Linked DNA regions of Homo sapiens: region 1 is linked to region 2. A link means that fine-mapping ties the variant in region 2 to the expression of a gene that starts in the linked region. Tissue or cell type: breast. Region 2 holds a variant in brackets; the other region holds the start of a gene. All regions are shown on one strand. Distances are from middle to middle.

The links. PIP is the estimated chance that this variant, and not a neighbour inherited with it, causes the effect.
Region 1: EXT2 starts here. The variant in region 2 is fine-mapped to the expression of EXT2 in breast (GTEx, PIP 0.98).

What each region holds. Positions count from the first base shown.
Region 1 is chr11:44,091,004-44,099,176 of GRCh38, forward strand. It overlaps EXT2 (exostosin glycosyltransferase 2), which reads left to right and starts at 4,675. Exons shown (of 14, transcript NM_207122.2): 1 at 4,675-4,849. RefSeq lists a silencer at 4,542-5,161 and an enhancer at 5,582-5,631.
Region 2 is chr11:44,127,235-44,135,234 of GRCh38, forward strand. It overlaps EXT2 (exostosin glycosyltransferase 2), which reads left to right. Exons shown (of 14, transcript NM_207122.2): 7 at 2,811-2,904. Among named protein-coding and RNA genes, the nearest start is that of EXT2, 36 kb to the left of the region's middle. The variant T/G (reference allele first, on the strand shown) is at 3,278.

The DNA of each region.
Region 1 (8,173 bases), 36 kb before region 2:
GGAAAATTCTTAGCTATCATCTCCTTGGATATTACCTTCACCTCCTTTTCTCTATTCCCTCCTTTTAGATATGTGCCATTTTCTTCATCTCTCCTCTCCCTCTCTTAACTTCTCTTTCCTATATTTAATTCGTTTCCTGTCTTTCAGATCGATCGTTGTTGTTTCTAACCTACTATTTAACTTATGCATTGACTTTTCAATTTCAATGTTTATATTTAGTACATTTTCAGTCTCCTTGGTCTTTTAAAAATATAACATCTTATTTCTTTGTAATGTTTTACATTTCATTTTAAGTCTTTGAGTGGTATAAACATACTTGTTTTATATTTATGTATCATAATTCAATTATATGTAGTTCTTGGGGGTTAAATTTCTGCTGTTTGTGATTTCTGGTGGTTTGTTTTCTCATATGCTTTATAGTTCTGCATTGTGAGTTTACATTTGTCAGGGTTTTATTTGTCAGAATCCTAGGTAGCTTGTGTTGAGGATGTGGGTCTCCAGAGGGGATTTATGTTTCCTTCTGTTGGATGTCTTTGGGTGCTACCAACCTGGGAATACTGTATGTTACTATCCTGGCTTGGAGCTTCCTAGACCATGCTGGTGGTATAAATTCAAACCCCAGATGGTCATAAAGCTTGATTGCTATGAACTGAATGTTCATCCCCTCCCACACCTCCTTCATATGTTGAAGTCCTAATCCCCAGTGTGATGATTATTGGAGGTGGGGCCTTTGGGATGTAATTAGGTCTTGAGGGTGGAATCCTCATGAGTAGGATTAGTGCCCTGACAAGAAGAGACACAGAAAGGTCTTTTTCTCCACCATATGAGAATATAGCAAGAAGGTAACCCTCTGCAAACCAGAAAAAGAGCCCTCATCAGGAACCAAATTGGCCAGCACCTTGATCTTGGACTTCCTAGCCTCTAGAGCTGGGAGAAATAAATTCCTGTTGTTTAAGCCACCCAGTCTGTGGTATTTTTGTTATAGCAGCCCGAACTGACTAAGATATGCGTGTTAAAGATCATCAGTGAGACTCTCTTCTTTTTCCATTCCCTGGACAAGACAGGTAAGTTTCTTTGGTGGATGTTGAGCAAATTTTTTCCAGTATTCCCTGTTGGGTGTAATTCTTTAAGATCCTAGCTTTATGGGTTTCTTTGTATCAGCTTCCTGCCTTGTATGCCCAAGATAGTTGTAGCTTCAATGTCATTTCTATTATTTAAGCTTCATTTTTGACTTTGGATGTTTTCCTTCCTTTTTTTTGTGCGTAAGCTCAGCTATTCACTTGAGAAGGTATTCCTTATATTTCACCTGGTTAGGTGTTTTTTAGCCTACCATGCTGCCTGCCAGTGCTGTTTTAAGCTGAGCCAACCTAAGGTCCCACAGATCAATTATATTATGGAGCCCTTTTCTTTAGAGAATATGCCTTTTTCCATTCTTGGATATCTCTGTTACAGTAGACTCTTGAATAATGTGGGGGTTGGGGTGCCAATCCCCTAAGCAGTTGAAAAATGATGTATAACTTTTGACTCCCCCAAAACTTAACTACTAATAGCCTTCTGTTGACTGGACACCTTACTGATAATGTAAATAGTCTATTAAACATATTTTATATGTTATATATATTAAATACTGTATTCTTACAATAAAGTAAGCAAGAGAAAAGAAAATGTTATTAAGAAAGTCAGGAGGAAGAAAAATATATTTACTATTCATTAAGTGGAAGTCATAACGATCTTCATCCTCCTCATCTTCATGTTGTGTAGGCCAAGGAGGAGAAGGAAGGGGGGTTGGTCTCACTGTCTCAGGAGTGGCAGAGGCAGAATAGGTAGCAGAGGTGGAAAGAGAAGCTGGAGAGGCAGGCACACTTGGTGTAACTTTTGTTGAAAAAAAATCTGCACAGCAGTGGATCTGCAAAGTTTAAACCTGTGTTGTTCAAGAATCAACTGTATTTAGAGGAAGTGCTAAATATGGGATTCAACCCTACACCAGCTCTTTCTCCTAATTGGAAACTCACTTTCCCCTGATGACACTATTTTCCACGAAAGCCATTCCCTTTCTAATCCTGACTTTCATATTTCCTGACTCACTGGGTAAGGGGGTATCTGTGTAATCTTTGCTTTGCCCTGTAACTTCAAATTCAGTAAAGCAGTATCTTTCTACAACCTCTCCTCCTTCAACCACCAGCTACTAAGACGCTTTTCTGCCTTCTCAGAAACTTCAGGTCCTGGCTTATAATTTATTTCCCACTCCTCCCTGAAGTCATCCTTGGATACTTTCGCATCATGTAGCTTCTAATTTCACATCTTCTATATTTTCCCACCTCCCTCACTTGCATGGTTTCTATGCCTAGAAATGTAGCCACACTGGATTGAAAAACACTTGCTCTTTCTGATTGCTTTTCCTTCTTTATTTTTATTTATTACTCTTTTTTTTTGCAGAGATGGGGGTCTCACTTTTTTGCCTAGGCTGGTATTGAACTTGTGGTCTCAAGTGATCCTCCTGCCTCGGCCTCCCAAAGTGCTGGGGTTACAGATGTGAGCCATTCTGCCCAGCTGCTTTTCCTTCTTTAACACATGCTCATGACTTTCTTTCTCTGCCTTGAATGCCCTTTTCACCTCTCTGCTTGTCAAAATACTAAGTGTCCTCCAGGATAAACAAAGATATCAACTGTTGATTGAACTCTTCCTAGATTTTTCCAACTGGATGTCACCTCTTTTTTTTTTTTGAATTCTGTAGCATTTTGTTTATATGCTTCTATGCCACTTTTTACCTTCTCCTTTGAATAATCTTATTGTCTTATTTCTAGTTAGCTCCTCCCAGTGTCTAGGCATCCTTTCTCCATTCAACAACTATTTATTGAGCAATTAACTATATGCCAGGCATTAGGCAAGTTTAAGGTTATAAAAAATGAAGAAGATAGGCAGCATTGTGTGAGGCTGTGCCTCACACAGTTCTTTAACACGGCAAATTCTCATTTTATAAAAGAACAAAGGATTAATTAAAAACATACATGTTTAAAATACAGATAAATATGGAGAAGAAAAAAAGAGGCCACAATCTTCCAGACCAGATAGCTATTGTTGACTTATTTCAAAAAGTGAAAACAATATTCCCTGGGATAAGATAAATTTGGATACAGTTCCAGTGGTGATTGTCACTGCTCTCCACCCATCCAGTTCTCAAATGGGGTGGGTGTGTGCTACATTTTGTATCATTTGCAGGGGGGATTTGATTTGGAAAGCAGAGCAATGCCCCCTTGGATGTGGGGAAGCAGAACATGAGTGTCCCATCCCCAGAATGTCCTCATCCCAATCTCCCTAGATCTGTGACAAGCAGGCATTAACTCACAAAAATATCCCTGGAATCGAGGTTGCTGCCGGAAGCCTCTGTAGGTATCTAGTCTCAGAATCATCACTTTGAATATTTAAGCTATCAGTGACAACTTCCACCAGATGGCGCCAAAGTACATCTGGGACCAGAAGGGATTTGGATCCTGTAGCCAGACCCACAACTCTACCAAACCAACATCGCAGGCCCAGGGGTCATTTCATTAACCTCTCAATAACATCGCTCTGAATTTTAATTTAATTTTTTAGTTTCCACTTACTGCTTTATGACAGCGGTTTTAGTGTGCATGGATAGGGCTAAATCATGTAAATAATAGAGAAAGATACAAAACAAAAATGCGTTTTTTTTTTTTTTTTTTGGAGACAGGGTCTTGCTCTATCACCCAGGCTGGAGTGCAGTGGCACGACCACGGCCCACTGCAGCCTTGACCTCCTGGGCTCAAGCAATCTTCCTGCCTCTGCCTCCTAAGTAGTTGGGACTACAAGCGTGTGCTACGATGCCTAGTTAACTTTTTATTTTTTGTAGAGATGGGGTCTTGCTCTGCTGCCCAGGCTGGTCTCAAACTCTTGGGCTCAAGCGATCCTCTCGTTTAGGCCTCCCCAAATGCTGGAATTACAGGCGTGAGCCACCTTTCCTCGCCATAAATGCTTCCATTTCCGCCTCGACAACTACTCCACCTGAAGCTGTTCATTTCTTCTTGCATTCCTTCCAGAAAAAAGTTATACACATGCCTGAATATAAGCACCTACTTTATATATTTCTCCCTCTTGTTTTTGCATATGCATAGTTTACCTAAAAGTGACTTGCCCGCTGTTTTGGACTACGCTTTGATCTTAACTAATATCTTGGAGATATTTCCTTACCCAAATATATTGCACTATCTCACATTACTCAAATCAATCAAATTCCATAATTTATTTCGATTGTGTCTAGCATTTCGCTATGATTAGAAAGAATGCTGTCATGGAACTTTTTGACAAACATTGTTGAGAATATCCATAGGGCAAACTCCGTACAGAGAGCTTGTTGGAATGAAGGGTACCAGCATTTTCCGTTTGATGGATAGTACCAAATTGCCCTCCAGGAATGTTATACGCTCACCAGAACTGATTATAATAAAACGTCTACATATTTGTTAGTTTTATAAGCAACGCGTGGTGTCTCGTTTGGGTTTAAGGATTCTTTAATTATGAATGAGGCTGTCTGAGCATTTCACTGCGGAGCCTGAGCGCGCCTGCCTGGGAAAACACTGCAGCGGTGCTCGGACTCCTCCTGTCCAGCAGGAGGCGCGGCCCGGCAGCTCCCGCATGCGCAGTGCGCTCGGTGTCAGACGGCCCGGATCCCGGTTACCGGCCCCTCGCTCGCTGCTCGCCAGCCCAGACTCGGCCCTGGCAGTGGCGGCTGGCGATTCGGACCGATCCGACCTGGGCGGAGGTGGCCCGCGCCCCGCGGCATGAGCCGGTGACCAAGCTCGGGGCCGAGCGGGAGGCAGCCGTGGCCGAGGTAAGCGCGGCTCTCCAGGGCGGCGGCCGGGCGGGCGCTGAAGCGAGGGCTCGGGCCTCCGGGGGCCGCTGCTGGGTCGGGACAAGGGCCGAGGGAGCGCGGCCGCGCGGAGGCTCCGTGGAGGCCCGTGGGCTGCGAGAGGCCACCCCCAGCCCCGCCGGGGCTGTGACAATGACTGCCCGCTTTTGGAGCGCTCCGATTTCCACTCCTGCTTCTCCTTCTCCTCCGGCGGCGGCCGCGCTTTCAGCATCTTGGTACCCACCTGTTCTCCTAGCCAACCTTCGCCCCCAGTCCGCTCCTTCCTTTCCTCCTGCGACCCGCCCTCCGCCCTCCGCCGTGACCCCTCCCTTCCTGCTGCCACCTTCCCGCCAGCCACAGGGATCTGATTCCTCCCAGGGGGATGTCCTGCGCCTCAGGGTCCGGTGGTGGCCTGCGGCATCCCTTGCGGTGCCAGAAGCCGTGGGACGAGGTAGGGAAGGGGCCAGGGGCATGTTATGCCGGGGACTGGGTGGTCGGGGGCGTGTTAGGCCGGGGACTGGGTGACCGGGAACTAGATGGCCGGGGGCGTGTTAGGCCGGGGACTGGGTGGCCGGGGTCATGTTGGGCCAGGCACTAGGTGGCTGGGGGCGTGTTAGGCAGGGGACTGGGTGGCCGGGGGCCTGTCAGGACGGGGCAGGAGTATGTTAGACTGCGGACTAGATTGCTGGTGGCATGTTAGGCCAGGGACTAGGTGGCCCGGGGGTGTGTCGGGCCGGGGCCAGGGGCATGTTAGTCTCGGGACTAGGTGGCCAGAAGCACACTGGCTCTGGGCTTCAACTTGAAGTCCAGAGGTGTTTGGGGCTTTGTTACATTCGGTGGGAACCAGATCTAAACACACAATTTTGAGAATCAAAGAATTGCTTGGTGTTACTGATTGGGCAATGCTAATCTAGAAAGGTTCTTGACTTATTTATGTGAAGATATGGTCTTGAAATATGTACATTTAAATTCTTGTAAGTCTTAACTTCTTGTAAGTCAGGTAAGTGCTCTATGTACTTTAACTGGACTTAGTTTGTAACTTTCAGAACTCAAAGGCTATTCACTGTAATAAAATAGATGATTCAGTTTCCATCATTCACTTTCCCCGACTTCCTGGTTGCATGTGAGGGTATGAATGGATAATCAGTTTTGGGGCCAGACTGCCATGCTGTGAATCCTAGCTTTGGCATTTCCAGTTGTGTAATATTGGGCCAGGTACTTAAACTTTCTGTTGTACTATCCCCATCTGTAAAATGAGGGTAATAATAGCTTGGCTTATAGTGCTGTTATGAAGATTAAATAAGTTAACACTATAAAGTGCTTAAAACAGACCCTGGCATGTAGTAAGTGCTTAGTAAGATTTACATATTAATTATGTAATGACACACATTGTCTTATGGTATAATTCCCATGATTAAAAGGGCATTGTTTTTAATTGAAAATAATTTTTAGGGGCATTTAGCCATAACATAACTTTAATTATAAAGAATCCTATCAAGTAAGGCAATGAATTGTGGCTTTTTTTGCTTTTGCTTATATTTGGTTCCTCTGTTTTTCGGAATGGTTGGGTTAAGATCCAGTGTGGCAGTGGCCCCAGGAGTTCAGCTGTAAGGCCCTTTCTAAAAAGGTTAAGAAGAGGCCAGGCGCGGTGGCTCACGCCTGTAATCCCAACACTTTGGGAGGCCGAGGTGGGTGGATCACTTGAGGCCAGGAGTTCAAGACCAGCTGGCCAACATGATGAAAACTTGTCTCTACTAAAAATACAAAAAAATTAGCTGGGTGTGGTAGCACACGCTTGTAATCCCAGCTACTTGGGAGGCTGAGGTTGTAGTGAGTTGAGATTGTGCCACTGCACTCCAGCCTGAGTGACAGAGCAAGACTCCATCTCAAAAAATAAATAAATAAATAAATAAATAAATAAATAAATAAAATAAAAATAAAAAGGTTGAAACGACAAGAGACTGTGACTGAAAACATTGGACTAAGTGGATTGGCTATAACCTGAAGCACCAAGGAAAGATTATTCAGGCAAATTTTAGGAATAAATAATTCCAGGAACAGAAAATGCATCTCATCCTCACAATAGGTTGGGGTTAAAAGACTTTTCCAGTGACTCAGTGCTTGACAGCTAGCCAGATGATTCCAGTGTTTTGCAGGGGCAGGTTTGATGTGTTTCAAGGTGATAAAGTTTGTAGGGCTGAAATTCTTGTTTTGATCCAGGTTATGGTATTGTATGGAATAAACCTTCATTAGTAGAAGATTCCTTTCAGTCTGTCATCTTCCGGGGATTTTAACTTCTTGGTGGTAGGGAGCAGTCTCACTGGACAGAGAGATTATGACTTGTTTCCTCGGATGATGGTTTGGAGATACTCCATCTCTCTGTGCTTTGGCATGTGAAAACTGTTTTGGGAGGATTGGTTCTGTGTGTTACAGGGGTGAGGTTGGAGTGTCCTGAGTCGGGAGCACTGTCACTTCAGTCTAGGCTGGCAGTTTTACAAAAGGGGTCCAGTATAGCACAGGTTTATAAAGGCAGGGGTGCAGCCTGGGCACGGTGGCTCAATCCTGTAATCTCAGCACTTTGGGAGGCTGAGGTAGGTGGATTACCTGAGGTCAGGAGTTCAAGACGAGCCTGGCCAACTTGGCAAAACTCCGTCTCTACTAAAAAATACAAAAAATTAGCCGGGGATGGTGGTGGGCGCCTGTAATCCCAGTGACTTGGGAGGCTGAGGCACGAGAATCGCTTGAACCCAGGAGGCAGAGGTTGCAGTGAGCCGAGATGACACCACTGCACTCCAGCCTGGGCAACAGAGAGAGATTCTGTCTCAAAAAAAAAAAAAAAAAAGCAGGGGTGGGGAAAGTAATGGTGCTCTTTGGATGTGTTTGCATATGGTGGGTGGTGGGAGAGGAGGGTGTTCAGGGGTGGGTACAGAAAATTCAGAGTCTATGGAAATATCTAGCCATTCCCCCTCCTCCTTTGGAAATTCCTTCCTATTTAGGAAAGATAATAGTCAGAGGCCGTCACATATAATAACTCAAAACTTGGATGCTAAACCGTGTGCACCTATGGAACTGGGAAGGATACAGACATTTGTTCGTTCAACAAATATTTATGTTTATATTAAATATGTTCTATTTTCTTTTTTCTCCTTGGAGACAGGGTCTCCATTGTCGCCCAGACTGGAGTACAGTGACGCAGTCATGGCTCACTGCAGCCTCAACCTCCCGGGTTCAAGAAACCCTCCCACCTCAGCCTCCCAAGTAGCTGGGAGTGTAGTCGTGCACCACCACACCTGGCTAATTTTTGGG
Region 2 (8,000 bases):
AAGTAATTGCAACAGAAATTGGATGACATACAGGGCTTAAAATATCACTATCTGGCCTTTCATCACAGGGGTCCCCAACTCCCGGGCTGTGGCCTGTTTGGAGCCGGGCTGCACAGCAGGAGGTGACCAGCGGGCCAGTGAACATTACCATCTGAGCCTCGCCTCCTGTCAGATCAGTGGTGGCATTAAATTATCATAGAAGCGTGGACCCTACTGTGAATTGTGCATACAAGGGATCTAGGTTGCGCTCTCCTTATGAGAATTTAACTAATGCCTGATGATCTGAGGTGGAACAGTTTCATCCCCAAACGATTCCCTGCCAAACCCAGTCTGTGGAAAAATTGTCTTCCACAAAACCAGTCCTTGGTGCTGAAAAGGTTGGGGACTGTTGCTTTTCAGAAAATGGTTACCAACCTCTAGCCTAGACCGGTGTTCAACTCTGACTACAGAGTAGACTCACCTGGAGAGCTTAAAAAAAATGCCTTGCCTAATTCTTGGGGATTCTGAATGTTAAAGCTCCCAGGTGATTCTGATTTGTAGTCAGAGTTGAGAACCACTGGTCTAGAGTCTATTGAATTTGCATAATGTTGTAGATGGTGGTGGAGAGCCTCATGTAGATGAAAGCTTAGAGACATTCCCAGTGTACAGATGGACCCAGTTCCATTCTACTGGGTGTTCACCATTTATATTGCAATAAACAGAATAGCCCTCTATTCTCATGCTTCACTTTCCCAAGATTTTGCAGGGTGAAGGTTGTTGAAAATTAATTCCATTCATATCTATCTCTCAGTCTTTTCCTTGCCTCAAATGCTTACTGGTTTTTTCCTCTCCCAACTTTTTTGGTATTTCTGTCCAAATCTGATCACCACAGGTATTTGAACAACTTGAAAAGCTCTAGTTCATTCATTCATTCATTTATTCATTCATCTCACATTGATTGGAAACCCTCTTGTGAGTAACATAGAGTCTCTGTTTCCAAGGAGGCTAGAATCTAGTGAGAGAAGACAAACCGATGATAATGTTTTGTGGTAAATGTCATAGCAGCTGTATGCACAGGGGACCATGGAAACCCAAAAGAGAGGAGGGAGCCTAACTCAGCTTGAAAGAGGAGAGCATGTAGTTATTCTTCATGCCTTAGAGAAGCGATGAGCCACTTCCAGCATTTATCTCCCAATGAAAGCATCCATTAAGTACCTTTTATTTACCAGATGCTGTCTTAAGTATAGGGAGACAAATACAATCAAGGCCAAACCTTTTCTCAGGGACACTCATAGTGTAGTGGTGGAAGACAGAGGAGTAAATCAGCAGTTACCAAATCCTGTGATGAGACAGCTGTGACTGGATGGGATGCCAGGAGGAGGGGGAGACACACACCATCATTGGCAGTGGGATTGGTGAGGGCTTCACAGAGGCGGTAACTCTAAGCTGAGTCCAAAAGGGTATTTCTATGAGAATCTAGATCTGCTTGGGTAGTGCTAATTATGGATTTAAAGTCAGAAGGCCTAGGTTGAGATAACCAGCTCTCTCACTGGCTGGCTTTTTGATCTTGGCAAATGACTTAATCTTTTTTGAGTCTCAGTTCTCCCATCTGTATAGTGGAAATCATTTACTTACTTAACAAATGTTTATCAAGTGCTAACTGTGCAAGGCAGTAATATACCAGGTGCTGAGGATACGCTGGTGAGTGGAGCCAGGCACACTTTCCGTCCTAATGGACTAGCCTAGTTGGCAGAAGTGAGGTTTAGAGTTTAATCATTAATTTATACAAATGTAATTACAAACTCTGCCAAATGTCGTGAAGGAAAAGTGATTGTTGAGTCCTCTCTTTCTCTTACCCACCACATCTAATCTGTTAGCAAACCCTGTGGGCTCTACCCTCTCATCCCCATCATCAAGTCTTCCCTCATCTGCATCTCTTGCCTGGCTTTTGCAGTGTTCTCCAGTTGTTCTCTCTGCTCCTGTCCTTGCTTTCCTGTAGTTTATTCTAACACTTTAGATAGAATGATCCTGTTGGAACATGGTTAGGTTATATCATGCTTTTGCCCAAAACCCTCTCATGGCTTGCCATCTCAGAAAAAAAGCACAAGTCTTTCAGTGGCCTACAAGGTCCTATACTCTTTGCTGTGACTCTGTCTGTCCCATTTCTTCTTTCCTGGTGTTATTCTCTGCCTTCTTTACTCTGCTCCAGCCACAATAGCCTCCTTGCTGTTCCTGGAACTTGCCCACCATACTGCTTCTTCAGGGCTGTTTGCTTGTTAGACTTTTTGCCTGGAATGCTGTTTCCCAGGCATTCTTCTGGCCTGCTTACTCTCTTGCCTTCCTTGTCTAATTAATTCACTGTTGGGTTAGCACATAATAGGGCTTCCATAAATATATGCCAGATAAATGAATAGATTTGCATAGATAGCTAAAGGAGAAAAGTATTTGTTAACTTAGAAACGGAATAAAGGAAGAGTGTACTAGGTGGGTGGGATTTCACATGCAAAGGCCCTCTGGTAGGGCAGAGCATGGTGTGTTCAAGTGACTGAAATAATACCAGTGTGGCTAGAGCACACTAGTGGAGTGGAGGCAGGGTGAAAGATTAATGGAGTAGGGAGTGGGAGGTAAAAAAATGGAGCTGTAAGAGAACTCCTTTGAGAAGTTCAGCCAGTGAAGAAGGGAGGGGAAAGAGATAATACTTACCGGAAGGGATGTGGGGCTGAAGGAGGTTTGGGATGTTGTTTCTGCTTGTGAAATGAAACAAGACTGTGTGTAGAAATGCTTTCTGTGAAGGGCTGTGTGTATGTAAACTGTTTTGCTGTTGTCTCCAGAGCATCTGTGGTTGTACCAGAAGAAAAGATGTCAGATGTGTACAGTATTTTGCAGAGCATCCCCCAAAGACAGATTGAAGAAATGCAGAGACAGGTAAGAGGCCAAGTCTTGGGGAGGTGACATGGGTGGTACCGAAATGGTGGCCTTGACTGGATACAGAGGGACAGGAGCTGAATGCCTGAGTGGGGTTTACTTCCTCCACTAGATCAACTAGCCAAACTGAAACGATAGGAAATTAATGTTAGGTGAGTTGCATCAAATAAGGTTTGAAATAATAACTCTCAGAGAACTGTGCAGAGGTAAGCCTACTGCAATTTTAGGGTCTTACCATAGCAGATGCAAAGCTGAAGCTCTTTGGAGGGTTTGTAGTCACAGCAGGTGATAGTCGTAGTGACTAAGACAGCCATGGAAGCTGGACCATTTCAGGGCAATACTTCTGTGTAGCTATTGACCATGATACTATTGC[T/G]GCACAAACTAGCCCAGCTTCCCAGTTCAGTCATCCTTTGTAATTCGGGAATCCTTCCCTCTCTTCTGGAACATTTGCCATTTTCCTGCCTCTCTTTCCAAATTTCTCTTCTACCTTCTGACACCCCATTCCCTAGGCTGATCTCTGACTGTCTCATACTCCACTTGATGTCCCACTGAGTCCTGCTTCCGTTTCTTTGTCCTGAAGGACATTTAATTGGGTTTAAATATCAAGCAAGGTGAAAAAGTTAAGAAGACTATCCCAAAAATTTTTAATGGACTTTTAAAAAGGTTTAATCTTTGTCAAAATCACCGATGTGGGAGAAGAGCAGGAAAAGAGGCTTGGCGGATTCTCAGCAGTACGTGCGTAAGTGTCCCATGCCACCCCCTGCTGTTAGTTCGGCACCCTCAGCCTCAGGCAGAGAGCCTGCATTTGGCCATGTCCCAAGAACAGGCCACAGGCTTCTGTCTGGATGGGGACAGCGCATCTGCCTGGCTGTGTGGGGAGGGGATCTGAGGTTCTGACTGTTACTTAAAGTTTCACTTTGACCTCCTGCTTGAACCCCACTCTTCCCCTGACTTGGGGCTCTGCAGTGTGACTCAGGTTTTTCTCAGCTGATTTAGGAGGCAGCTCTCTTGAGTCTATAGCATCAGTTACCACTTCTTCCTTTACTTTTCAGCTTCCACATTCTGATGCTGTTATCTTGTCTTTCATTCTCTTTTTCTTAGGGGATACATACCTTAATTTAGAAAATTCCCCTTAATTGTCATTTTAGAGTTTTAGGAGAGTGAGGTTAGTGGATGTGTTCAGTCCACCCTCTTTATTATGATAGTGAACTTCTTATCGACACAGATTAAGTCTGTAGGTTCTTACCTCAGATTGCCTGGCTTGGGTATCAGCTCTGTGGGTTACAAACTCTGTACCCTTAGGTAAGGATCTGCCTTCTCTGGGCCTCAGTGACCTCATCTGTGCAATATTTTGGCATTCTGGTTTGAACGCAAATCGCAGGTTAGTTTTAGCTTCCCTGCAGTTTATTTATAGCATCCTCCTGTTCGTTTTAAGTTTCTGGGTTTCCCAATTGTTATTTAACCACTGATTTCATCTAAGTTTTAGTGAATCAGAAAATCAGTCCAGAGATCTCTAGATTTTTTATCTAAACCTGTGGTTCCTAAAACTTGTGTAGAAGAAAATGCCCCTTGAGGAGTCATAATGTTTGTGCATTTTGTGTTACCTTTTCTTTCCCCGCCGAGGGGTCTCACTCTGTAGTGCAGGCTGGAGTGCAGTGGCATGATCTTGGCTCACTGCAACCTCTGCCGCCAGGGTTCTAGTGATTCTCCTGCCTTAGCCTCCCGAGTAGCTGGGACTACAGGCACGCGCCACCATGCCCGGCTAATTTTGGTACTTTCAGTAGAGACAGGATTTCACCATGTTGGCCAGGCTGGTCGAACTCTTGACCCCAAGTGATCCGCCCGCCTCGGCTTCCCAAAATGCTGGGATTATAGGCGTGAGCCACCACACCTGGCCCACTTTGTGTTACTTTTTATGGAATCTTGATTTATTAGTAAAACTAAATATAGAATTATAGGCTAAAGCAGAGACTATTTTATACTAGAATCTAGTCTAGAAAGGGTAAGAAAAAACTGGGGAGGTTAAAATGCACAAATTCTATCCAGTTTCTTCTCCACCCCTCCACCCTGAAGCTGTGAAAGAGAATCATTTGGTTTTTGGAGTGGCGTCTACTGCCAGCTCACAGAGGACTGTTGCCCATAGGAGGGTGGTGTGGGAACCACAGGTCTGAGATAAGCTTGGTCATTTTCAGTGTTGGCTCAGAATCATAGAACAGTTGAGAAGGAATGAATGCTGGTCATTTAAAACAGCGTACTTTTGGGTTATTTGGGTTCAAAGAGACACACTGAGTCAAAAGACTTGGGTTTGATCCCTGGCTCTGTCCGTTTGATTGCATGACCATGGTAAGTCCCCAAGCTCCCTAGGCTTCCATTTCCTCATTTATGAAATGAAGGGGTTGGCTAAATAATCTCTCATGTTCCATGTGGCTGTTAAAAAACTCTATGAAATGCTTATCCCTACCAAGAACATTACTCTCCTTGACAACATTAATAATTTAGTGGTCATCTCTTCTCCCCTTGAACAGCTCTAGTCACAAGGGCCACTTGCCTCCTCTAGTGGTGAACAGTCCACTATGCCAGCTTAAAAAGAAAGGTGGTCTTGGCACTTTCCCGGCCCCCTTTCTAACTCCCTTTTCCGCTTTCTGACGGCCTCTTTCCCTGTGCTGCTTTCGGACCATCTAAAGCTCTCCACTGCGGCAACTCACTAGTCCCACTCCCCTTTCTCTGAGTAATCCATGTTCCCAAAATGACCTCTTTTCTTTTCCTAACCCCACATTTCTAGAGTGGGCTGATCTCAATTAGATATGAGATTATCTGGTTAAAGTAATTTCCAGTTAGGTATAAAGGATGACTAGGTTTCTTCAACTACTACTAGATTCCAATAGCACCCCTCCCCTCAGTTGTGATCACCAAAAATGTCTCTAGAACATTGCTTGCCAATTGTCCCCTTTGGGGTTGGGGGTGGAGGGCAAGCAAAATTGCTTTAACTGAGAACCACTGTTCTCTATAGATAGTTAATGTCTCATCTCTCTAAAATTAGAGTTCTTTGGTTCTATAACAAAATATACTGTTTCCAAAACATTCTTGTCATTTTGCTTTCTGTTTACCTTCTATTGATTTAACCTGACCTTGGCAGGAGTAATTAAAAAAATGGTAAAACACCTGATTCTGAAAAGTTCTTATACCTTAGTGAATTCTCTTTAGGGAGGTCAGAGGTGGGTCTTTTTGCAAGACAGGCATCCACTTTTAGGGGAAAGCCTATTGTATCAGTAGTTGATACCTTGGAGCCCCTAGATGATGTATCAGAATGAACTGAGGGTGAGGAACAGAGTCTGATTTGCTTGCTGAGAAACTCCAGACTAGCTTAATGGAGCTGCATTGGACAGTTGTAGCCAGCAGAGGTCTCCATCCACTTTTAATTAACTCATTTTCCCTCTGAGTATTTAAATCTTTCCAAGAAATCCTAAATGCCATGAGCCACTCTGGTGCTTCACACTGACATCTTCCTGATAGCTGCTCTCTAGAGACCATTTCTTTCAGATGAAGAAGAAGAAAGAAAATCCTGCTTAGCACAGGATTTTACTCTCCCTAGATGCAATAGAGCTAAAGTTTCTGATTTGGCCCCAGAAATGTGGGGTAGGGTCTTGGTGAGGAAGGTATTGGAGCAACATTTTGCAGCTTAGAGTTTAGGATCAGAAAGGCTACAATCTGACAGATGTCTAAAGTGGTGAAAGTCCTTGTTGTGACGGGAATTTGTGTGTACCAAGGGAGAAAGTCATACTACCTGACAAAGAAAGGAAATTAAATTCCCTTAGATGTGATAGTAGCAGCCAAAAAGTTAACTACAAGGCTAGAGCCTAATGTAAGTAACAGCTATAGTTAGACTAAGACTTTTGAAAAAAAGTACAACCTGTGTCTCTGGTATCTATTCCTGAAGGCCACCAGTGAGCAGTGCTGCCACACGTGGCATTGGGCAGACTACTGGGGGCTTATAGGGCTTTTTGTGGGGAAGTTAAAAAACAGTTCCTTAAGTCAGTAGAAGACAGTAGTTGTAACAGTATAAAGCTGACTTCTCAGTTGGCCTTTTATTGTCCTGTGAGCTAATGATTAACTAGTTAATTTATTGAATCCCTAATGTTTTTTGGTGGGGGGAGAGATTATAGGAGATAATAAAAAAAATCTTTGATCCCCATTCACAAAGGGCTTGTGTTGGGGATATATGGGTATAAGCATAAAGAAAGTTGAGAAGATGATGCCGATATTTCTAGGTACATTATGGGTCATTAAGGGTCTGAAATGGAAGGGAGAAAGTTGGGGCTAAAGCTGTCAGGATGAATTTCTTGGAGATGTAGAATCTGAGGTAGGCCTTGAGATGGGAGTTCCATCAGCCATCTTTCTTATGTTGGAAGGCAGGCAGAAGTATGCAGCTAAATATTTTTCTGTAGTCAAATGGAACATTCATATTCCCAGTCTCCCCTGAATCACAAAGAAAAAGTACACAATCTGGGATCTCAGAAGGCTGGATAGACACTAGACTGTATCGTTAGAAATGTTTGTATGGATAGGGAGGAAGGTGTAAATGGATCCCCAGTTTATCTGTTGAGTAGAATTTCCAAACATTCTTTTATTGGTCAGTGGCTCCACCAGCAGTGACCTCTAACCTCAGCCACACTAGGAGGTGGAAGTCAGGAGCCTGACTTGCCTTTGAACTCTTCTTTGTACTCAATTGACTAGAAGCCTTTGAGGTGGCAGAAACATTCAGCATCTTCTTTTCTCTCTAGCCTTTAACACTTGGGGTACATTAAAATACCAGTTTCTTTTCAGTCTATTACACTGATCCATCTCAATGTGCCTTCATATTTTTCTATTAAGCAAACCAAATATTGGTGCTGCAGAGAAGTACTTGAAGATGTAGTGGGCTGATTAGGAAAAAGACAAAACAATTTTATTTAAGAAAATAAAACCTCTAGACTATAGTTGGGCCTAGTAGTGATCAAGAAGAGAGTAGAAGAGGCTACAGAACAGTAAATGTGTGCATACACCGAAGTTCCTGTACTTTATAGGAGAGCCCCTATCAGGGGCCTCTTATTTTATCC